Regions from separate parts of the Homo sapiens genome. Here all the other regions are linked to region 2. The links come from fine-mapping of genetic effects on gene expression. A gene starts in region 2. Each other region holds a variant in brackets. All regions are shown on one strand. Distances are from middle to middle.

Region 1 (8,191 bases), 40 kb before region 2:
TACTCCTCTGGTAGGGGCTATTGATAACGGGGGAGGCTGTGCTTATGGAGGGGCAGGAAGTGTATGGGAAATGTGTGTACCTTCCTCTCAATTTTGCTGTGAATGTAGCACTGCTCTAAAAAATAAAATCTTAAAAAGAAAAGTCTTTGAGGTTTCAAAAATGGAAAATGTTGCAACTGTATGACAGGATTAGAAAAAGGCCATAATGAAGAAGGGTGATGTCTGGCACAAATAATAAATAGCATAGGTAAATGTGAAAGAGACACTGGTTATGTGTAAGTCTTGGAGGTAGGACTGGAAAACAGGGCCATACTGTGGAAGGCTATGCTGCAGGAAGATCTGGTACTAACAGTTAGCACTAATAAACCACTTCAAGTTTCAGAGTACAAAATCAGCTAACCACAAGGACACCTGAAAACAATAATTTGGCAAAAGTGTGTAAGATAGACTTCACAGTACACCTAGTTCTAGCTATCGTCCCAGTCCCTGCTTTTTAATCCTACTAGTAATTTCTCACTCTCCATTCTTTAATCTGTGCAAGAAACTTTTTAAAAATATTAGGTACCACAACTTAGTGTAAACAGCCATTTTCATAAACACACTCTTTATAATGTTATCTAAGTCATGAATGATGTTAGCCTGAAGAAAATTCTAGGGAAGTTGACATTCTCATCTCCTCCCACACTGACAGTAAATTATGTAAATTAATCTTTGAGAACAGACCTTTAAAACCAGTTTTAAACTTCATTATATCCCAAACCTGATTCTCCAAAAGAGCAGCTGACTTTGTCCTTCAGCATCAAAAAGAGGTATCATGTAAAAACAAGTACTTTTGTGGGTTTACATCCTTGCCCTGCACTTACCAGTTGTATACCTGGACAAGTTACTTAGCCCTCTGTGCCTCAGTTTCTTGATCTATAAAACTGTAATAATGACATGGACTACCTCAAAGGATACTGTGAAAATTGCATGAGTTATTTTGGGGGAAAGGGGAGGATTTTGTTTTTAGTGTTTTTATTTATTTATTTATTCTTTTTTTAGAGACAGGGTCTCACTCTGTCATCTAGGCTGGAGTACAGTGGTGCAATCATGGCTCACTGCAGCCTGGACCTCCTGGCCTCAAACAATCCTCCACCTCAGCCTCCCAAGTAGCTGGGACTACAGGAGCACACCACCACACCCAGCTAGAGTTATTCATATACATCTAAATCTGTAATGCAGAAGTTGAACTCAGCTGTTCAACTTCTAACTACATTTATGCCTGTGATTATTTTATGCAGTATCATAGATTTAAATATCACTTACATGTTAATAACTCCCAAATTTCTATCTCCAGCACAGAGGACTTTTTCCCAACTACCCAATTCTATCTTCTCCCTACTCCCAACCATCCAACTGCCTACTTGACATCTCCACTTATTCCACATCTAACAGGCATCCAAACTCTCAATATATCCAAAACAGAACCTCTGATTTGCCCCAAAACCTATTCTTCCTTTTTCTTCCACAACTCAATTAATGGCTATTCTTTCAGCTGCTCAAGCTAAAAACCTTGGAGTCCTCTTTGCCTCCTCTCTTTAGCCCATTACCCACCCCCCACCTAAACCACCATAAAAATCCTGTCAGTTTTTCTTTCAAAATATATACATAAAGTATTTATACAAATACAAAATGCAATCACTTCTAACCATCTCCATAGCTACTATCTGTCTTGGTCAAAGCCACTATCATTTCTTATCTGCATTATTACAAAAGCCCACCTCTACTTCAGCTTCTGCAAACCGTTCTTAATAGAGAATCCAGAATGGTCCTGTCAAAATATGTTTTCTGCTTAAAACCATGTAATAGTTTCTCACCACCTCAGTCAGAAAAAAAAGTCCACCTCCTTACCATGACTTTCAAAGCTTAACATGATCTGGCCACCTATAGTCTCTCTAACCTGTATCTCCTACTTCCCTCTCTCATTTATTCCACTCCAGCAACACCAGTCTCGTTGCTATTCTTCCTACACATCAGACATATTTCCATCTTTGGGCCTTTAAATCTCTGTTCCCTATGACTACTGCGCTCTTCACTCAAATACACAGAAATTCACTCTTCCATTAACTACAAGTCCTTACATAAAGTCCTTACACTTTTTCAACAGAATTGGCCTGTGCATTCCAAGCCACCAACCCACCTGTCACTCAAAATTGCCACTACCCTGCCATAGGGTAACTTTCTGATACACTGTATTATTTTTTAATTTGCTTATCATTTTTATAATTTATTGTTTCCCTCCCTACCCAAATGAAAGTTCCATGCAGGTAGGTGTTTTTATTTGTTTTGTTCACTAACAGATAGATGAATTAATCATAGACCAAAGTAATTTGTTTTATATGAAATGAATAACTAATTCAAGTCTCTCATTCTGAAGGAGACAGTTAAGAAGCAGTTTGACTCATACAGAAGCAATCAGTAAGCAGCACAGTCCAGAATAAAAGCAAGACTCCTTGGTCTCAGCCCGAGGCTTTTTTCCACCAGAGCACACTGATAGAATGTAAGAGAATATATAGAAAACTAAATTTTTTAAAACAAGCATGCATACACATAAACACACAGACACATATACAGACACATCTCACATTAAAATATTACCACTGCCAGCTGGGCACAGTAACTCGCATCTGTAATCTCAGCACTTTTGGAGGTTGAGGCGGGTGGATCATTTGAGGTCAGGAGTTTGAGACCAGCCTGGCCAACATGGTGAAACCCATTTCTACTAAAAATACAAAAATTAGCCAGGCATGGTGGCGCACACCTGTAGTACCAGCTACTCAGGAGGCTGAGGCACAAGAATTGCTTGAACGTGGGAGGCAGAGGTTGCAGTGAGCCAAGATCATGCCACTGCCCTGCAGCCTGGGCGACAGAGCAAGACACTATCTCAAAAAAATAGATAAAATAAAATAAAAAATAAAATAAAATAAAATAAAATATTACCACTGCCCGGTGGTAGTTTACACAAGGTAATTACATTCTCCAAACTTTTATTACTTACCTCTACCCCAGATTTTTTTGGTATCTGTGTTATAGTTTCTTTGAATTTATTTGCCTTTTCAAGTTGAACTTTAAGTTGTTCAGCTAATTCCTTCAAAAAGAAAAACAAGTAAAATATGTGCGATATGTAGTTTAATTCTTTACGACAAAATGTTCAAATTTACACAACAGAAGGAAAAACAGCATAACCAACACTCATGTAGCCTTCATCTAATTTCAATTACCAACCCATAGCCTAGTATACTACTTTTTAATGAACTTATCTCAGTTACAAACTTCTTGAATACCTGTGACATGCTTCAAAGATAAATAATTATAAGGACATATATTTTGGAAGAGATAGATGAAGGAAATACATAACCTTAATGACATTTTAATAATTACTAAATATTACAAAAGTTCAATACTTTCAACTTCGGTTATTGGTAACAAAAAAGCTATCACAAGATTTAAACTGTTACCTTCTTTATTGTTGATAATTTAGATGAAAATTCCGAAGATATTTCATTTTTACTCTAGGAAACTTATAGAAATTTATATAAAACAACTGCCATATAAAGCAATAAACCATGAAGTAATACATTAAATAAGTAGATTTATGTGACATGCAAAGAATAGCAAGCACCACCACAGTGTTC[T/C]TCTTGAACACAAGAACACATATTTCACCCTTTTACCTAGATGACCTCTCTTTCACTATTTTAACTAATTCCTCTGTACTTTCAAAGCTCAAACTTTACTTTCTTGCTATCGTTACTGTTGTTGGTTTACTTCCCTTACCAATTTCTAGGACGAGTGGAAGTTCAGTGTTTCCAAGGATCAGATTCAAAGAGATAGAGCAGCATATGCAAGATATGCCCTTTATTAGACATAACACAGAAATATCTTGTTTGGTTACCATTTGTTCTACTACAGTATTGTACTAATAGTTTACCAAAACATAAGACTACTTAAAGATCCCTTATATTTGGGTTTGAGATGAGTGCATACATATGACCATGACTGAATCTATTCTATCAAGATGTGGAATATCTGGCTGTGCTATTCTGCCATGTGCACTTAAATATATACATCTCACTGTATATTATTTTAATATGCATGTGACAATAAGTGAATGGATGAATGGATAAATGCAGCTCTTACCAAATCATCCCTATTTCTTACAATTCTGAGGTAAATTAGTCTTAAATCAAACATTACTACAGGAATTAAATGAGTAAGCCTACACAAAGCATCTAACACAGTATCAGGCACAGCACATTTACTTAAAACTTGAATAAATGACTTAATCCTCCTTTTTAGGTTCCTAAGTAATTTGGAAAAGTAAAAAACATTCTTACAAATATATGACAAAAATGAGGTAGAAAAAGTGACATCTTTATCTCCCTTAAATATGCTCAATGAGTTACAAATGCAGGAATAAAGTAAATAGCCAAGTAAAAAAGAAATTTAAAAGCATGAAGTTCCTTAGTATCTTCAATTTCAGAGATCTGACAGAGAAAGTAGATCATTTATTTAGAAGTAGATAGTATTCTTCACAGAAAGGTTCGAGAATTTTTTTTTTTTTTTTGAGACACAGTCTCGCTTCGTCACCCAGGCTGGAGTGCTGCAATGGCGTGATCTTGGCTCACTGCAATCTCCGCCTCCCAGGTTCAAGCGATTCTCCTGCCTCAGCCACCCCGATAGCTGGAATTACAGGCATGCGCCACCACACCCAGCTAATTTTTGTATTTTTACTAGAGACAGGGTTTCACCATTTTGGCCAGGCTGGTCTCGAACTCCTGACCTCAAGTGATCCGCCTGCCTTGGCCTCCCAAAGTGCTGGGATTACAGGCATGGTGCCAGGCCTGAGAATTTCTTTAAGGAATCAATAACCAACAGTTATTTTCACAGTGTGCTATATCCACACTGCTAAGGAACTTCTAAAATTACTCATAAGAAGTTAAACATTTAATCATTATTCTCTAAAGCAACATCTAAGAGTCTTACCATATTCCCCATCATCTCTGCTTTGATAATCTTGGCTCCCAACTTGTTCTTCTCATCAACACTCAGGATGTGAATGGACTCACGCTCTGGACTGCTATTGGAATAGGAAAGATTAACAGCATATGAAATATAGGTGCGATGCAAGCAATAACATCAAGACTCAAATGTTATTTTAACTGACCTCAACAAAGCATTCAGTACCAATAGCAGATCATGATTGTAATACATGTAAATTAAACTCAATATTTTTCCACAAATTGATAAAGTTCTCTGTTACAATGCCACAACCACCTATGGCAGTTATAATAACTGATCAAAATCCCAATAACAATGAGATAAATAGTACTTATCAACTCTTCTTATTTAATATCCCCATACTCGTAACTTTAAAAAGGAAACAAACAAAAAACGTTCGAACCAGGCCATAATTCTATACATCTTTGGAAACTCTTCTCATTCGACATAAGTTGTTAATAATCTAAGAAACTATAAAATGATATATATATCTAACTGCATTCAAAGAATAAAAGCATTGATCGTGTGCTTTTTTGTAAAGTCAGTCCAGAACATAACATATAGTCAAATAATATAAACTAGTTTAAAACTGGTATCATGTGCCAAACCTATACTATGGAAGCCTCACACAAAAAAAGAAACCTCCAGCCAAGGTCAGATTTCCCTAGCTTACTGCCTTAAGAAATAATTCAAGGCTACAGTGCAGGACAGTGACCTCAGTCAGAGTCTGAAGGATTTCTGAGTAAAGGAGACATAGCCAGGAGTCCAAGAATTCCAAGGCAGCTAGAATTCACAGAACAGAGTACCAAAGAAGCGAAAGCTGCACCATAAGAAAATCCCAGAGAACTGCAGAGGGTTCCCCTTGAGTACTCAGCAAGAAACCACCTGCAGTCAGGGAAAGAACTAGCCCAGAGGATTGGAGGTAGAGTACCTGGCATTCCTGGGAACTGCTTATCCAGTCCCACTAGCTAGACTAGGAAATCACGTAATTCAAAAAGCACTAGACACAGTATTAAAGAGTCTTGCTTCATTAGTGGGAAACAGCATGCCCTAGACTAAATGCTGCTCTGGGCCCACCTAAAAAATGTTAAAACAAAAGTTAAAAGGATCAAATGTTTTCCAATTAATCAGAACAATATAAATATTCCAGAACAAAGCTCAGGAATATTTATAGAAATTCAAAAATGTCTAGCACTCAACAAGGTAGTCTGTAAAACTTAGTATCTAATCAATGATGATCAGACAGGCAAATAAGTAGAAAAACACAACCCATAATTAGAACAAAATGCTATCAGTCAAAATCAACCCAGAACTGACACAGATGTAAAAAACAGCAGACAAGGATACTAAAAGTGATTATTATAACTGTGTTCCATAGGTTCAAAAAGTCAGACACAACAAAGATATAAAAAAGATCCAAAATAAACTTTTACAGATGAAAACTACAATGTGTGAGATAAAAAATATATGGGTAAGATTAATGGAAAATTAAGCTGCAGAAGTAGAGTTTGGTGAACTTGAAGCAATATGAAAAATGAAACAGAGAAAAGAATCTGTAAAAATGAAAAGAGCATCAGAGGGCTGTGGGACAACCTTAAGTATCCCACCATACATGTAACGGAAGATAACTATTTTTAAAATATATTTGAGGTTTATAACAAGTATAAGTAAAATGTATGAGAACACTAACAGAAAGGAAAGAAAGGGAGAAATATAAATAAACAATGATAAAGTTCTTACACCATTCAGGAATAGCATATCACTTGAAGATAGACTATGATAAGTTAAAGGTATAGTACACCATCAAAGACAAAGCAACCACTATTTAAAAAAAAATATATAGCAACCAAGGAAATGAAATGGAATCATAAAAATAATCCAAAACAAGTAAGAAAAAGAGGACAAAGTGAAAAAAGAACAGATGGGAAAAATAGAAAACGAATAGCAAAGTTACATATTTGAACCTAATTATATCAACAACATTATATATAAATGGTCCAAATACCTAAATTAAAAGGCAGAAATTATCAGATGGATATAAAAGCAAAATTCAACTACAAGAAATGTTCTATAAATACACAGACATACGTATGTTAAACATAAAAGGATAGAAAAAGATATACCATGTTAATGCTAGTCAAAAGAAAGTTGAAGTGGCTACATTAATATCAAACAAACAAGATTACAGAGGAAAACAATATTACCAGGGACAAAGAACGTCATTTCATATGAAAAAGGAGTCAATCCAGCAAGAGCGTTTGAATACATGAGCAAAAACTGACAGAAGAGAAATAAACAAATCCACAATTATAGCTATAAATTTCAATACCTCTCTCTCAATATTTGATAGGATAAATATAATAGTCCCCCCCCTTATCTGCAGGAGTTATGTTCCAAGACCCTCAGTGGAAGCCTGAAATCTTGGATAGTACCAAACCTTATCTGTAGTATTTTTTTTCCTATATATACATACCTATGTTAAAGTTTGACTTATAAATAAGGTATAGTAAGACACTAACAACAACAACCAATAACAAAATAGTACAATTACAACAATATACTGTAATAAAAGTTATGTGACGGTGGTATCTCTTGCAGAATACTGTAATATTTTCAGAGCATGGTTGATCATGGGTAACTGAAACCTCAGAAAGCAAAACCATGGATAAAGGGGGACTACTGTAAACAGAATCAGCAAGCATAAGGAAGACCTGAATAATACTATCAACTAACATGCCCAAATGGACATCCATAGAACACACCACCCAACAAGAATAGAAGACACATTCTTTCCAAGTGCATACAAAATATTTCCTGAGATACACCATGTTCTAAGCTATACAAACAGTCTCATAAATTTAAAGGAATTCAAGTTGTATAAACTATGTTCTTTTATCACAATGAAATTAATTAGAAATCATTAACAAAAGTCTCTGGAAAATCCTCAACTATAATACTTGGAAACTAAATAGCGCAACTGTAAATAACCCATGGGTCAAAAATAAGACCAAAGGAAAATTATATGACACATGTCTGAACTGATGGAATGCTGCTAATTCAGGGGGAAATTCATAGCACTAAATATTTATATTAGAAAAGATCTCAAATCAATCACCTCATCTTACACCTTAAGAAAGCAGAAAAAGAGCAAATT
Region 2 (8,191 bases):
AGGCCCTGAATAACCAGCACCAATAATCGGGTACTACACTGTGGCCTTCACTGTGTATCTGAGACTTGCTGGATTCAGGTGAGACTCAGCACATTCCCAGCTGTGGTGGCTATGGGGAGAGCCTCCTTCTGCTTGAGAAAAGTAAAGGGGGCTCTGTCTTGCGCCTTAGGTACCAGCTCAGCCACAGGGTGGTAGAACACCAAGAGGGATCTTGGGGTCTCCAGCCCCACGCCTTGGCTCTTGGATAGCATTTCTGGATCTGCCCTGGCCCAGGGGGTGCCCACTGCCCTGAAGGGTGAGTCCCAGGCCGGGCAGCTGACTGAAGAGTTCTTGGGCCTTAAGGGAACATCAGTGGTAGCCTGCCAGTACTACCTGTGGGTCTATGGTGGTGGCTACAGGGTGAGGCCCCTCTGCCTGTGAAAAGGGAAGAGTGGGAAGGACTGCCATTCATAGGTTGAATGCCAGCTCAGCCACAGTTCAATAGAACACCAGGTACAAGTCTAAGGTTTTTGACGCCAGTACCTGGGTCCCTGATGGCACCTCTGGACCCACCCTCAGGCCTGGGGGAACTTGCCACCCTGAAGGGAAAGACGCAGGCCTGGCTGGCTTCATCACCTGCTGATTGCAGAGCCCCAGGGCCTTGAGTGAACACCAGCTGTAGCCAGGTAATTGTTACAGCAGGCCTTGGGCAAGATCCAGTGCTGTGCTTAGCAATAATTCCCAAATCATATCCCTATCCTCTTAGCCTTTCTCTGAAATTCAAGATCAACATTTCCAATATTTTCTGGACATCTCTAAGTAGATGTATCCCAGATATTTTCATATCATAACTAGTAATATATTTTTTACGTTTTCTTGTATTTTAACTTCCCATAAGTTACACATTCAAATAAAATGTTCTCAAATAGCTGCTTTGATTAATTTTAGTACATACTTACTGATGAGCTATCAGATGACTCATTGTTTTTTTCATATTTCTGTTTCTTGCTCTTTTTTTTCTTTTCTTTCTTTGCTTTTTTTGAATGCTTGTCTTTTTTCTTCTTTTTCTTCACAGAGTGTTCCTACAATCATTTTGAACAGGCAAGAAAATAATTTAATTTCATCTTAATTTAAAAGGATGTATTCTGAGAGAAAAAAAATAAACCACATTCTAAAAAACTTTCAATCTCTGATGAAATAAGACCAAGAATATGTCTAAATAAATAAAATCTTTCAGGAAATCTTAACACACCTTCTATAATATATGCACTATCAATAAATCATATAACTGAGACTTCTTACCAGAAAAATACTGGGAAAATTTTGGCTTTATTTGTAGATTAATGTGACAAATATAATCAAATAAACACATATATACACAAACATGTATACATGCATCTATACACACACAAACACACATACATATAATATCCCTCTATGGTCTCCCCAAAAATTTATACAAGACTATTAGGCCATAAAAAATATAACAAGATAGCACAAATTAAAATTATAGGAAGAGGCTAGGGGAAGGAGCAAGGATAGGGAAAGGGAAGATGTTGATCAAAGGGTACAAAGTTTTCATGACACTAGAAATAAGTTTTAGTGATCTATTACTGATGACCACATTTAATAATAAGGTATTATCTATTTCAAAGCCATTGAAGAACAGACTTTTAACGTTCTCACCACAAAAAAATAAGTTGATGAGGTGATGGATATGTTCATTAGCTTGACTGAATCTTTCTATAATGTATACATAGATCAAACCATCACACTCTAACCCATAAATTTACACAATTATTATTTGTCAATTAAAAATAATTTTTAAAAAAATTATAGGAAAACAGGCTTGAGACCTAAAAAAATAAAATAAAATAAATACATAAAGCTTAAAATGCATAAATTTTTAGGCCTATAAGCTTGCTATAGTGGGCCAGAAATTTGAAGCTGTCTTCTACTAGCCAAACTCAAATAACAAAACTTGAGTCATAATGTCCAAAATATTACAATATCTTACCTCTGCCAAAGAGATGAAACTATTCAGCAATGCCAACTATGTGATATTCATTTTGTAACTTATGAAAACATTCTATAAAATTATTCATCCAATATTAACTTGAATACGTGCAAAAAAGGACAGATATCCTTACATCACGTAAACCTGTTAGTATTCACCTGTGAGAACTGTTCAATTCTCTCATTCACATCAGGTAGCATCCATGTATCCTCACCCCGAAGTCGCTTAAGTTCTTTACGCCTTTCTTCTTTTTCAAAATTGGCTTTAGCCTACAACCAAAGAAAAAAAAAAGACAAACTGGCAATTGACCCAACTGGGTTTCACAAAAAAAGGAAAACAAAAACCTCTGTCATTTTTATACAAAAATATCCACTCATGAATGAATGTCTATTCCTTGCCAGGGATTTGCTTCTCCAGTGTAAAAAAATAAAAAAATAAATAAATAAACAAAACAAAGCAAAAATCTCTCCTTCTGCATTTCCAATCTCCAGTGATTTGAGTTACCAATCAGAGAGAATCCAGGGACTGAGTCCAGGCCCTCCCATCTCTCTAAGCTCCCTAGCTCAATATGACTTGGAATCCCTTTTCCCTTCACCATTCCCATGGCTACTGCCTTAAGACTTTTGCAACAGTTAGACCTCCACGCCTTCAATATGCAATGCCTGTAGCCCCAATACCCAGCCCCAAAAATGCCTCAGGAAGAATCATCTCTGTATAAAGAAAGGATCATATTGGTAATTTTTATCCATTCTTCAATGATAGTCAAACAAAGCAAGTTTTTCCTAGGAAATCGTTCCTGCCCTCTTTCTTTCCCTGTAACTCCAAAGCTCAGTTTGGTCCTTTTCAAATTCTATGCATATCTCTACTATAAGATTTATCTCAACTTACGAAACTTACTCCCTCCAAAAACTGCTGGAAATACCAAAGAGAAAAGAATGAATAATATATATATACCCACACACACACATTACATATGTTGAAATTACGAAACAATACCAACATTTCACCTACCCAAGACTAATCGCCCACTCTTCCCCTTTAAAACCTGGCTGTAGTCATTTTCTTTTTTTTTTTAATCAAATATAAAAATAATTTATTAAAGGTTTATATCAGAGAACTGCTGAAGCAACAAGAACTAGAAGAGTTAATATTCCAGAAAAGGGAAAATCATGGAGAGGTAGTCCAACATTCTGCAGCTAGCTTTTCCCTGGGTGCATATAATAATTCTTGGTGTAGGCAAGAAGATGAATACAATGGTTATATACCAAACAGAAAAATCGATATCAGAGAAAAGAGCAGGGCTTATGATGGACTCCAAAGAACAGGGTGAGAAAATTGGAGATTAAAGGAGAATGGGGCTGCTTCACCCTCAAATTATTTGCCAAATTTTGAAACTATGTCATTTTCCCTTTAGAGTCTCCTCTCCCTCTTCTCTGCTGGCTCCTTCTCATTTGCATTTAAACTTGTTTAAAACTCTTCCAACTTAAATAAAAACAAAAACCCTCACTGAATTCTCTGTTGCTCTCCAACTGCAACTTTTCTCTTTCATTGCCACACTTCTTACATATTGAATAGATTGTCAGATAATTCAGAAGCTTACTTTCTCCATTCTTTGTATGTTACCTCTATGTATCTGAAGTTTAGTGAGAAATACAATGTTTCGCGATCTTTTGTGACAGGCTAAATATACTGAGATTGGTGTTAACTTTTGTTTGGATTGGTAAGAGCTTACAGTAAGTCTGGAATTGATACCAATAGAGACAGGAGGAGGAAATGTCAAACTGAGTCTATTCAAGTGTGACTTGAATGTGTTTCCGAAAAAGGAAAATCTCATTTCAGATACAGCAGTAGCAATGACTGAGGCTGCGAGACATGCTGGCAGAGTCCTTACAAGCCGCAGGGGACCTACAAAGTGTGCAGTCCGAGTGATAGAAATGTAAAGAATGGGTAACTTAAAAGGTAAAGAAACTTGGAGAAAAAGCGACAGATCTGCCTGAAAAGAGAATTAGCAACTGGCACCTGCCAGAACATCTAAAAAATCGGTAGCTACAAAAGGGTTTACCGGCATTGCAAAGGGAGAACTCACCCAAATTAAGGTGAGATTCAGTACTGACGAGGTAAGGGAAGGGGTGAGTGGGCTAGCTTACGGGAACCCTCAACTCCCACAACAATAAATAACTACAAAAGCCCCAAAACAGAGGTACCTGGCGCAACACCTCGGCCCTGGCATTCCGGGTCTGTTCTTTCCGCTCTTCGATACTCTTCGCACTTTCAAATCTACCACTAGCAGCCGCCATACTTGTTGCCATCGTAAAGCTAAGAAGCCGCAAGAAAATTCTAGTTTACGACGGTCGTAATTTAACAAACAAACCGGGACTTCCGGACCCGAGGAAGGAGGAGCACGGCTCCACCAACAGGGCATGCGCACATCTGAGGTCGCTTAGGGCTCGGATTACCGCAGCCCAGATTTTAAAGACCCGAAGGGTGTTGGAGGGTTTAATTCTTTCAGGTGTTGGGTGCGATTGTGAGCAGGATTAATACCCGTATATATTTATTATGCACTTTTTACTATATTAACAGCTTTCTCACCAATTTCGTCTTAAAATCACCGGAGTAAGTTACAAGCTCTTGGAAGTTAAGTTGGTACCTCTCAAAAGTTTTCTGCGGAAGTACCCTTTGTCGCCAGAGCATCATTTCCCTGTGCTGGAGGAATGGGATAAAGGGAGGCTGCCAGAAAGGTAGTGGCAGCTGGCAGGAAGGACAGAATTGCCTTGAAGATTCAGTGTTTTGTTTTGGTGGATTTTACTTAATATATGAAACACTCATGTGAATTTTGCATTGCACTTCACAATTTACCCGTGCTTAACTTGTTAGAAGTTTACATTATATTTTTTCCTCTGACCCCATATTATTTACTCATACTTATCCATCCAAGCATTTTTCATTACAATGGACAGTTACTTATTTATTTCTGCGGAGATTTCTTTGTTTTGTTTTACGCATGTATCGCCCAAACATAAAACTTTTAAGTTCAGAAGAATAAGACATTCTAAGGTGATGAAGTGCTTTGAGAACATAAGACACTAAGCTTACATTTACAAGAAGAAGAAGGCTGGGGAATTAATTATAAACGATACCTTAAAGACGCTAAAAATAAGTAACATAAGCCAGGTTGAGGTAAATACTCTTTCTCTTCAGGTTTCATAAAATTTAATGTGTGTTTGCAAGAAGCTTTCCAAGAGTTTTTACATTCACTACCATTCTATGAGTCTGAATCTTGAACACACAATGCCTACTTGTTTGATATGCAATAGAAAGTATTCATTTTATTTTAAAATGTAATTTACTAATCGACCTTGTAATATTTAATCAACTGACTACATTGACTGATATTTGTCATAACTAGCATCAACGTCTTTTCAGATTCTCTTGGAATTCAGAAAAACATCCATTTCACTGTTTTGCATCAATTCAATAAAAATAAACTGTGATTATATTAGAAACGTGTGTGTTTTAATCAGTTCAGGCTGCTATAACAAAATATTATAGAATGGATGGCTTATAAATAACAAACAAGTATGTCTTACAGTTCTGGAGGCTGGATAAAATCAAGGTGTTGGGCTATTTGCTGTCTAGTGAAGGTGTGTCCTGGTTCCTAGAGGGCAGTATTTTTGCTGTGTCTCATATGGCGGAAAGGGAGAGGGATCTCTCTAGAACTTCTTTTATAGGAATTCATGAGGGTGCTGCTCTCATGACCTAATCACCTCCCAGAGTCCCTACCTCCATATACCAGCACATTGGGGATTAGATTTCAACATAAGAATTTTGGGGAAACAAACATTCGGTCTAGAGCAATGTGCAAAGTTATATGAAGAAAACTTTAAAATCTTGCATAAGCTCCCCAAAAAGACTAGAACGAATGGAGAGGTATACTATGTGCTTAAAGAAGAAAACATCATAAAAAATCATTTCTCAATTAATTTGTAAATACCATGCAATACAAATAAAACTGCCCAAAAAAAAGTTGGGGTTAGAGAGGGGAACTAGATATGTTAAAATAGAAAAAAGAAAAGAAAAGAAAAGAAAGAAAAAGCAGGTTATTTTGGCTAGGTTTGCATTTGGCCACACCTAATGCGAATCCAGTCACATGGCTTAATCAAATAAAGGATAACGTAACAAGGAGCCTAAAAGTAACTGGTCCAGGCTTGGTGCAATTGCTGAAGGAGCCAAATAGTTTATCCTTTTTCGCTTTGTTGCAGTCTGTGACTTTAGTATTTGTAGTCACAAGCAGGGTATCATATTCTTTCACATCTGTTCACGGCATCTGATAAACAAGAATAAAGAGAAAGGACAAAGGGTAAACGTTGTTAGCTAAGCTGGCCTCATTTTTTATTAGAAAAATGATGGCTTTTCCTAAAGCCTAGTTCAGTTTCTTTCATTTAAATCCTATGATCCAGAAATAGGTCAGATGATCACAATTAACTACAAAAGTTTCATGAAGATTGCAGGATAGTTGTGTTATAGAATGTCACTCAACTTGGGTTTGTCGGAGGTTCTTTTGTGATTAAATTCAAATTTGGCCTCTTAAGCAGGACGATCACAGAAGTGAGGCGGTCTTACTGCATCCTGTTGGGTAGCGCATGATTTCCATTTGTTCCATTACAGGTGATGTTAATTCTGATCATTTAAATAAACTGGCATCTGCAGAGCTTCTCTGCTGTAAAGTACCTCTTTTCCTTCTATAATAAGTATTTTGTGAAGTGGTTCTTTGAAACTATGTAGATCATGTACCAAATTTTCAAGTTATTTATTTTTATATAATACAGATTCATAATTTCTCAGTGGATTCCTGTTTTTGTTCAGTGGGATAAAAATTCGTTATCAGTATTTATTTTGATCCTCAAATTGGTCCAGGTTAGGCCAGTGAGAGCCCTTTCAAGCTGGTTCCTGTGTCCTTTAGACATGTACCCACATTCTTTATATATATATATATATATATATATATATATATATATATATATATATATATATATATACTTTAAGTTCTGGGGTACATGTACAGAATGTGCAGGTTTGTTACATAGGTATACACGTGGTATGGAGGTATGCTGCACCCATCAACCCGTCATCTACATTAGGTATTTCTCCTAATGCTATCCCTCCCCCAGCCCCTCACCCCCCAACAGGCCCTGGTGTGTGATGTTCCCTCTCTGTGTCCATGTGTTCTCATTGTTCAACTCCCACTTATGAGTACATGCGGTGTTTGGTTTTCTGTTCTTGTGTTAGTTTGCTGAGAATGATGGTTTCCAGCTTCATCCATGTCCCTGCAAAGGACATAAACTCATCCTTTTTATGGCTGCATAGTATTCCATGGTGTATATGTAACACATTTTCTTAAACCAGTCTATCATTGATGGGCATTCGGGTTGGTTCCAAGTCTTTGCTATTGTGAACAGTGCAGAGATAAACGTACGTGTGCATGTCTTTATAGTAGAATGATTTATAATCCTTTGGGTATATACCCAGTAATGGGATTGCTGGGACAAATGTTATTTCTGGTTCTAGATCCTTGAGGAATCACCACACTGTCTTCCACAATGGTTGAACTAGTTTACACTCCCACCAACAGTGTAAAAGCATTCCTATTTCTCTACATCCTCTCCAGCATCTGTTGTCTCCTGGCTTTTTAATGATCGCCATTCTAATTGGCATGAGATGGTATCTCATTGTGGTTTGATTGGCATTTCTCTAATGACCAGTGAAGATGAGCTTTTTTTCATATGTTTATTGGCTGCATAAATGTCTTCTTTTGAAAAGTGTCTGTTCATACCCTTAGCCCACTTTCTGATGGGGTTGTTTTTTTCTTGTAAATTTGTTGAAGTTCTTTGTAGATTCTGGATATTAGCCCTTTGTCAGATGAACAGATTGCAAAAATTTTCTCCCATTCTGTAGGTTGCCTGTTCACTGATGATAGTTTCTTTTGCTGTGCATAAGCTCTTTAGTTTAATTAGATCCCATTTGCCAATTTCGGCTTTTGTTGCCATTGCTTTTGGTGTTTTAGTCATGAAGTGTTTGCCCAAGCCTATGTCCTGAATGGTATTGCCTAGGTTTTCTTCTAGGGTTTTTATGGTTTTAGGTCTTACATTTAAGTCTTTAATCCATCTTGAGTTAATTTTTGTATAAGGTGTAAGGAAG
Region 3 (8,191 bases), 190 kb before region 2:
TGAAAACATTATGTCCACCTTCCCCAATACACTTCTCTGTCTTTTCACCCCATTCAACTCATCTATTCCTCAGCAGCTAAGTCAATTTTCAAGGCTGGGCCTATTCATCGGCTGATATTTCCTCCCTTCCTTTGCTCCCCAGACACTCTCCTAAAGAGCAAACTTCAGGGGTAGGAGAGAAGTGGGATGCCTGAGGCTGGGCCCCCTCACAGGCAGACAACCAAAAGAGCAGGATCTAGCTCCAGGTATGGCAAATTCAGATAACTGTATTTGCTCTCCTTAGGATCAGCCACATTCTGGGAACTGATTCCTGCTCCCTAAAATCACAAGACACCCATGAGAGCCAATTTCATTTGGACAGAAAGCAGACCTTAATGGTGACTGGCAGACTCTTGTCCACTGTGCAGGGTATAGCTCCCTGGCTCCACTCCTGTCACCTCACCCCCAGCTGTCAAATTGCCTGGGAAACCGACTTGTCACCAGAAGATTCATGGCAAGCATGCAATTCAAACAGGAATCTGGGAGATGCTGCTGGTCTTATCCCTACTTCACTAGGCAGCGCCGCTTTAAACGTGACTAGAAAGCTCACATCCTCCAGACACAGTGTCTCTGTGCCTCTGACAGTGACAGATTGGCAATGACGAATTCTTACCAAACACTTGCTGTCTCAATGTTCCTTAAAGTCACCAAAGACTTCTGTCATTACAACATACCTTTGAGACAGAAATGTCACCATTTCTAAGATGACAGCCTTTCATTAGCTACACTCTAAATTGATGCCTTCCTTCTTGCAGGGAGCATCGTGGGTCCCTGGCTGGGAGCTGAGAAGCTCCCTCATCTTATCAGGAACACTCATCCGAATCATTTCTTCCTGAATAGATTTCCACAGATGAGCAATCTCATTCATTTAGGATGCTACTATTCATTTTCATTTCAAAACTTGTCATGTCCTTGCTTTGTCCCCCAAATAGTGGAAACAAACATGGCTCTAAATCTACAAGTGAGTTCAAGTGTCTCGAGTGCCCATATTGTGCTGGACACTAGAGGTGGGGTAGGATGCAAACATAGTAGATATAAAGTTCTTGCCTCTAATCAATGTATGCTCTGGAGATGCAAAACATCTCAAACACAAAATAAAATAATCCAAATGCTATATGGCATGGTAAAGGAGTAATCTAGGGGTGGACTACTCTGAGAGTCCAGGAAAGATGGTTTCAGGGACTTTGCATTGTTAGTCCCTATAGTGGATTAAATGATGGCCCAAAACAAGATACATCCATACCAAGCCCCCAGAACCTGTGAATGTGACCTGATTTGAAAAAGGGTTTTTGCAGATGTCATTAAGTTAAGGATCTTGAGAAGAGATCATTCTGGATTACCTAGGTGGGCCCTAAATCCAGTGACAGACATCTTTATAAGAGACAAGAAAAGCAAGAAGAGGAGATGGTGACGTGAAAATAGAGGTAGAGATTGGAGTCATGCAACCACAGGCTGAGGAATGTGTGGAGCCACCATAAGTTAGAAGAGAAAAAGGAAGATTCTGCCCTGGTGACTCTGGAGAAAGTGCAGCCCTGCCAACACCTTCATTCCAGACTTCTGGCTGCCAGAACCATGAGAGAATAAGTTTCTGTCATTTTAAGCTAACAATTTTATGGCAATTTGTTATGGCAGTCAAGGAAACTAATATGGTCCATCTGCCTGGGATACTCTGTTCTCCCGATTGCTCAGGTCTCAGCTTTAATGTAATGTCCTCAGAGAAGCATTTTCTGATGTCCCGTCCCCACCCCACAGCTAAATTATTTAATAGGTCCCATTATTATACTTATGGCCAGCTCCATGTCTGTTTCCTTCCTGGTACTTAGTGTGAAGTCTACTTACTACTTAAGGCAGAATAATTTATTGAGATATGAATTTATGTTTGTTTTTGCCTAAAAATTCCCCATTGAGGAGATTATAGGGGAAGATGTAGAGCAAGAGGGAAGAAGCAGCCAGGAGAGGAGTAATTCTCAATTGAGTGGTGGGGCGGCCAGCACATACTCCACTCCTTGCAGCACCCAGGGAGGCAGGGAAACCTCCAAGGGCACAGCTGGACCACAGGCGCCTGTGCCCCATCCTCACAAAGATTCCCAGTCCTGAGTGCAGAGCATCAGCCCACAAGGGACCCTCTGCCACAGTGGTCCATGGGCATGATCCAGTGTGACCACGTGGCCATTACTGGGATGCACTTTCCTAATGTATTTGATGCCACAAAAAAAAGTCTGTGTATCTTTTGGCGAGAGACAGAAGGAAGTGTGAGGAGAGCAGACAAGAATTGCTGAGATAGAATTTTTCAGTGTGGGTCAAGATGACAACTCTAATACAAATCTAAGCTGACTTAAATAAAAGTTTTTAAATGTTGAGCTTATGGACTAAGATTTGCACCTGCTGAAAATTTATTTGTGTGATCATTTGTAATGATGTCTTCCCACTAGGCTGTAAGTTTCTGTGACTGTTTTTCTGACTGCTATATTCCCAACGCTTGGAACAGATTTTTTTTTTTTAAGTTTGTAAAGTGAACAGGTGTGAGCCACTGCACCCAGTCCCAAGCTCACGCCTGTAATCCTAGCACTTTGGGAGGCTGAGGTGGGCGGATCACCTGAGGTCAGGAGTTTGAGACCAGCCTGGCCAACTTGGTGAAACCTCATCTCTACTAACAATACAAAAATTAGCTGGATGCGGTGGTGGGCGCCTGTAGTCCCAGCTACTCAGGAGGCTGAGGCAGGAGAATCGCTTGAACCCAGGAGGTGAAGGTTGCAGTGAGACGAAATCGTGCCACTGCACTCCAGCCTGGTGACAGAGCGAGACTCCATCTCAAAAAAAAAGAAAAGAAAAGAAAAGAAAATCCCAGCCAAAAGGGCCATCAGGAGGACTAGGTGACCCCCAAAAAGCAGTCTATGCAGGACAGACTTCAAAAAGTCAGACCCCCTTCATAGGGGGATGCACCTGTACCAGGAAACAGTGGGAAAGAGACCTCCAGTAATGGGATTCTCTGACAATCCCACAGAACTGCTTCATGAGAAAAAGATTAGCTTTGGGACATCTGACACCCTCCAGAGATATCAGGTCACAAGTCAGGTGTTTTTTTTTTTTTTTGTTTTTGTTTTTGTTTTTGTTTTTTGGTGTGTTTTATTTGTTTGCTAACTCTGGTAAAGCCAGAGGAGACTTAGGGGATTGAGGATGGGGAAGGACGTAATTAAAGCATGATCATGATGTTTTTTCCACTGCAGCTTTCCCAGCCTGGATTGGATTCACTTGGGGAAGGGGAGAAACTTTGGATTGGATGAGAGACTAAATTTTATATATGAGACTGGTCTACACTTTTATTACCAGAAAAATGGCAGTATTCATTGGTAGCTGAAATGACTTGATAAAACCATGTGATCTACCCAGGACTTCATGCAGAAGTAGGGAAGAAGGTGTCAATAGAGCTTGCCTAAAGGCAATAGTGTGCAAGAATAAAGCTACTTTCTGCTCATATCCTTCTCAGTTGAGCTCAAAGAAGAGCCTGCACAGTTCCATGGGCTTCCTCCCACAATGATGCCAGGTTTGGACTCTGCATATCTATGGTGAGGTTCTTGCTTGGGTTCACAGCTTACCCTCACAGTCACATCCTGGGGAAAAACCAGGCACTGTAATGCTAGCCACCGTGTCCGGGTTGAAGTGACCCTAACTGCAGTGCCCAGAGTCACTGTCTGTCTTACCTCTTCAGGGCTAAGTCATTCTCTTCAGCCAATCAAATTCAGTAAGGACTTCTTACACTCATCTCCTAAGACAAGATGACCAGCTCCTTACAAACACAGAACTAAAAGAGACTCTCAACATGATCTAATTGACTTAATGTTGCAGAACTAAGGTGAGGCTGCCATATGACACTTTTCGGTATAAGACCTATTTTGAGTGACCTGTGATGTTCACTGTGGACATTTAAAGAATGTTTCTCAACGGGCACACTGTTTAATTTCTCCTTGAATAGGCTACCTGTTACACTCACAATTCATTTAAGCAGGAGAAAAAAATATGGATTTTAGTTGAGGGATGACAGTTTGAATAAATAAGAAGAGATAGCCTTAATAAAGAAAATAAATGGGATCTGGACAGGCTAGGAGGGGAGACAGGAGAGGGAGAAAAGAAGAGATCAAATCACTACTCTCTGACTGTGGAACTCATCCTCCCACTCCAGCTTACATCTGCTTAACTTTAGTTCACATAAAGTCATCATTTCTGAAACTGCTATTTTTTTCCTGTACTGATGTTGAAGAGGACAGTCTCCACCTGCTGCAACCCAACTTTACTCATGCCTTTCTCACACCTTTGCTGTGCTCAGGGGTCTGTACAATTTCTCTGCTCCAGGAACTGCATGAAAACAACAGGGGT[G/A]TGTAGCTTCATTACAGCTTTCCAGGGTTCATTAAATAAAAATAACCTAAATGAAGTTACATTAGGAAGCACTCACATTAAATATCAACTGCTAATGAGCAACTTTTAAGGACTGTCACCAGAAAAGCAGATCTTGTCACCCATTAGGAATTGTTTTTAAAACCAGCTAGGGAAGAAAAAAAAAAAAAAAAAACTGGTTTTCTCCAAGATTCAGGCTGCTTTCCAAAGGAATCGAGTGTCAAATGGTGCAATCAGTGTGTTGAAGAGTCTCAACTGTTGAGATTAGGGGGGAGAAAAACACATTTTTTTCCCTAATAGCTACTACCCAATAATACTAGGCCAAACCCATCCTTCCTCTTGAGTAGGCTGCATAACATTTTAGTCACTTTTGGTTTTCAAAAATGTCTTAGTTTAGATGTCCCAAAAATGTCTAAGAATCAGTTCTGTTCATTTTTAAAGTTCAATATCATATATGAGTCAAAGCACTTCCCCTACTCCATTCCCTCTCCAGCCCCATCTCAGGCTCACCTCATGATTGTGGTTCTAGCAGCTTGTGGTGGAGGATGGGACATGCCTGGCTCTCACATAACCCCTTCTACTCCCTGTCAGGTGGGAAAGAGGAAGAGAGAAAACAGATGTCTCCTTCCCCAACTGAGGGAGGCCTCAGCTCCCTTGTTGGGTGTTCAGGGCCACTTCTTTAGAGCGCTTTCTGTGGGATTCCTGTGGGCTGGTGGCCATTCAAACCTGCCCTGCTAATGGGGGGCCTGCTCCTCAGCAGCACCCCCTAGACCCCGGCAGCCATTTATGAGCTGTGACATTTTGGGACCCATCGTCCCATGTGGGATTCATCCTCTGCACCTCGAGGTAGAGAAGAAATTCTGACCTCTTTTGCCTGTCAGTCCCCTCACCCTGGCAATAACCTTCTGGGTTCTCTTTATTCCTGCTGTGGTAACACAGGCAGATTAACAGGCCCACTATTTAGGCAAGGACTCAACTGGAGACTAACACACAGGTCTCTCTTTCTTCCAGCCTTCTCTCTCATCTTTACAAAGGGTTCCTCCTCCTGGGGCCTTTCTCCCTTCCCTGCAGGAAAAGATGGCACTCCCTATTGTCCTCTACACAGGAAGGTCTTGATGGGAGAAAATAGAGTCAGTCTGTCAGATGCACTGCATCTCACTTACCAAAGGCAGCCTCCCCTGTCCTAGATCCATCCTTATATTAAGTATGAGGAGTGGGAGAAAAGCAAAGGCAGATGGAGGAGCAGAGAGGCCATGTTAGGCCAATTCTCTGAACTAGAATATTTTCAGTCAGCTATGTGGATAAATGGCTGCTGCCAATTTTGGCAGTTCTCTGGACCTAGAATATTGGTGTATGTGGACACTTCTTTTCCTAACTTTGAAATCCTGGGACAACAGAAATATTCTCACATGACATTCCTATACAATAGTTTCTATGGGCTATAAGTAGTTTTCTCAACAATTCCAGAAACACTGCAAATGTTAAGAATATTACATTCCAATACTCTTCCTTTTCTTGACTGAGAAATGTGGTGGTGGAGGAAGAAGTGGTTGGTGAGGCCATAATGTGTAGAAAATAAAGCCCAATAAACACAGAACTTACATACATACATGTTCACATACACACATCTGAGTTTCCATGTCAGGTACATTACATACTTGTGTTGGGAACATTAGGGAATAGATAAGATCCATTTATAAGGATTTACAAAAATTACAAAATTAAAAATTGTATAAAATTTCATGTAATTCAACAGGATTCTCACGGTGTATAATTTTTTTTTCCACTGGAAACCTTTCTTTCTATAACTGTATACTCTTATTTTGTAGTGATATTATTCTCACCCTCTGTTACCTTATATCATTCTTTTTCTTCTAATACATTTATTCAACCTTTATCAAGTATCAAAATGTCTTTTGACATTCTAGTTGCCTCCTACACAGACTGGAGGTGAATGATGGGTACCTTTCCACTATCTTTCTGCAGGCCCTGCGTGGATGAGTCTGGCATCTCTTTTTAGAAAGTGTGGGTACATTGCCTCTATCATCCTTAGCTTTGAGGCTTTAGCTGGAATTTGAAGGAAACAGCATATGTCCCATTTAACAGCCTATTATATTTGGAAAGGAGACTTGACAGTTCATTCCAAGAGTGAAGAATCATTTTACTTTCTGTTTCACTTGATCTTAGCTACCAGGTGTCCACAAGTCCTTCAGGATTTTCATATAATTTGCCTGAGAGAATTTTCCTTAGAGAATGTAGAAGATAAAGGGCTATACATGAAGGCTCAGTGTTACAGATTCCTATCTTTGCTGTATGTAACTAAATTGTTTTTGAGTGGATTATAGAGACTGGAGAAAGAGGTAAACCTATTACTTTTCTCCTTTGATGCTTTTTGACTAGTTTGAGCCTCCAAAAAATAAATTAGGATAAAGAGCAGCACAGGCTATGAAGATGATGTGCAGGTGCATTCATTTCTTTCCAAGTTAAAAATACAGTAGAGAAAGTAGGAAATGCAGTGAGCAAGGTACAGCTCCCTTTATTCCATTGACAAGCATTAAGCACGCATTTTATGTCGGGTACAGGGCTAGGCTTGCACTCTATTGACGAAATGAGGATTCAAATATTGTCTTCAAATTTATTCATTAAAATAGAAATATCATTCACTTTTACAGATGGCAAAATTTGCCATTGCTCCAAAGATACAGCTTTTCTACACTTCCTGGCAATCAATGGAAATCAGGATTTGAGCCATGTTGTGCAATAAAGTCTCCGAACATATTTGGCAAATTAGTATTCCTCGTCTGCACTTGCAGCTTATGAAGATTTTGAGCACAGCTTTAAGACAGCTCTGAAGTTGGGAAGAACTCTGGGGTGCTTTTACCTCATGGGCAGCCACACTGCCTCCACTCCACCTTGGAATCTTGCTTCCTTAGCCATCTGAACACAAGTTCTCTTGGTTCAGCCAGAGCCGGGATCAGGCCAGGAGGTTGGCTGGTGACACTGAAGATGGGAATATTTTCCACAAAGCTGAGAAGTGATGAAGGGCTTCTGGCTCAAGAAAATGTATGTTCACATTAAAAATTCAAAACTCTCCTGAATGCCACTTAGAGTTTTTAAATATTAGATTTATTTCCTCCTAATATACAGGGATGCTGGGAAACGACTGGATGACACAGGCTAGGACTGAACTTCAGGATGTAGAATGAAAGAAAAAAAATCTTAGCACTGCTAAGTTCTTATTTTATAAAAGAATTTAATAACCTCATAAAATAAACAAAGCTCATAAATATCTATTTTATTTGCACCTATGTCTCCCACTGTGATCAGCCATAACCGGATAGTAAATCCAACTGACAGGCAAAAAAAAAAAAAAACCATAAAAAATATTGAAGTAAAACGCTCATCTTTGTGTTGTTTTTTCTAGTCATATATTCAACATAGCTCTTCAGCCAAAGACTCCTTAAGGCAGATTTCTCTGACGCTTGTCAGTACTGCTTCTTTGATTGAGTGGTAATTAGTTCAACTTACAAATTGCAGTTATTTTACTAATGAATCTCAAATGGAATGAAACCAATCAGAAATTATTTACTGGGCATGACAATATGCAAAACAAATAATAAATATTAACTCATTTGTTAATCTATAGGATTACAATTATTACATATAAATATGTGTAATATGTGTGCATATGAATTTGATAATTGTTTTAATTGTATATAATTTATTAATAATTTTAATCATTACCAAAAAAAGTATGACA

Which allele goes with the higher level. Positions count from the first base shown, and alleles are read on the strand shown. Sizes are in standard deviations (SD) of each study's normalised expression. Not every link is listed here.
For the expression in breast of the gene that starts at base 4,314 in region 2, allele G in region 3 goes with a higher level than allele A (small effect, 0.33 SD a copy in GTEx).

What was found. PIP is the estimated chance that this variant, and not a neighbour inherited with it, causes the effect.
Region 1: its variant is fine-mapped to the expression of CWF19L2 in whole blood (TOPMed, PIP above 0.99).
Region 3: its variant is fine-mapped to the expression of CWF19L2 in breast (GTEx, PIP above 0.99). The same link has a PIP of 0.9 or more in left ventricle, lung and unexposed skin.

What each region holds. Positions count from the first base shown.
Region 1 is chr11:107,413,172-107,421,362 of GRCh38, forward strand. It overlaps CWF19L2 (CWF19 like cell cycle control factor 2), which reads right to left. Exons shown (of 18, transcript NM_152434.3): 9 at 5,023-5,116; 10 at 3,038-3,127. Among named protein-coding and RNA genes, the nearest start is that of CWF19L2, 41 kb to the right of the region's middle. The variant T/C (reference allele first, on the strand shown) is at 3,675.
Region 2 is chr11:107,453,512-107,461,702 of GRCh38, forward strand. It overlaps CWF19L2 (CWF19 like cell cycle control factor 2), which reads right to left and starts at 4,314. Exons shown (of 18, transcript NM_152434.3): 1 at 4,201-4,314; 2 at 2,155-2,265; 3 at 939-1,061. The coding sequence starts at 4,305. RefSeq lists an enhancer at 4,093-4,598.
Region 3 is chr11:107,259,362-107,267,552 of GRCh38, forward strand. All of the region lies in intron 1 of LOC105369477 (a long non-coding RNA gene), which reads right to left. Among named protein-coding and RNA genes, the nearest start is that of CWF19L2, 190 kb to the right of the region's middle. The variant G/A (reference allele first, on the strand shown) is at 4,414.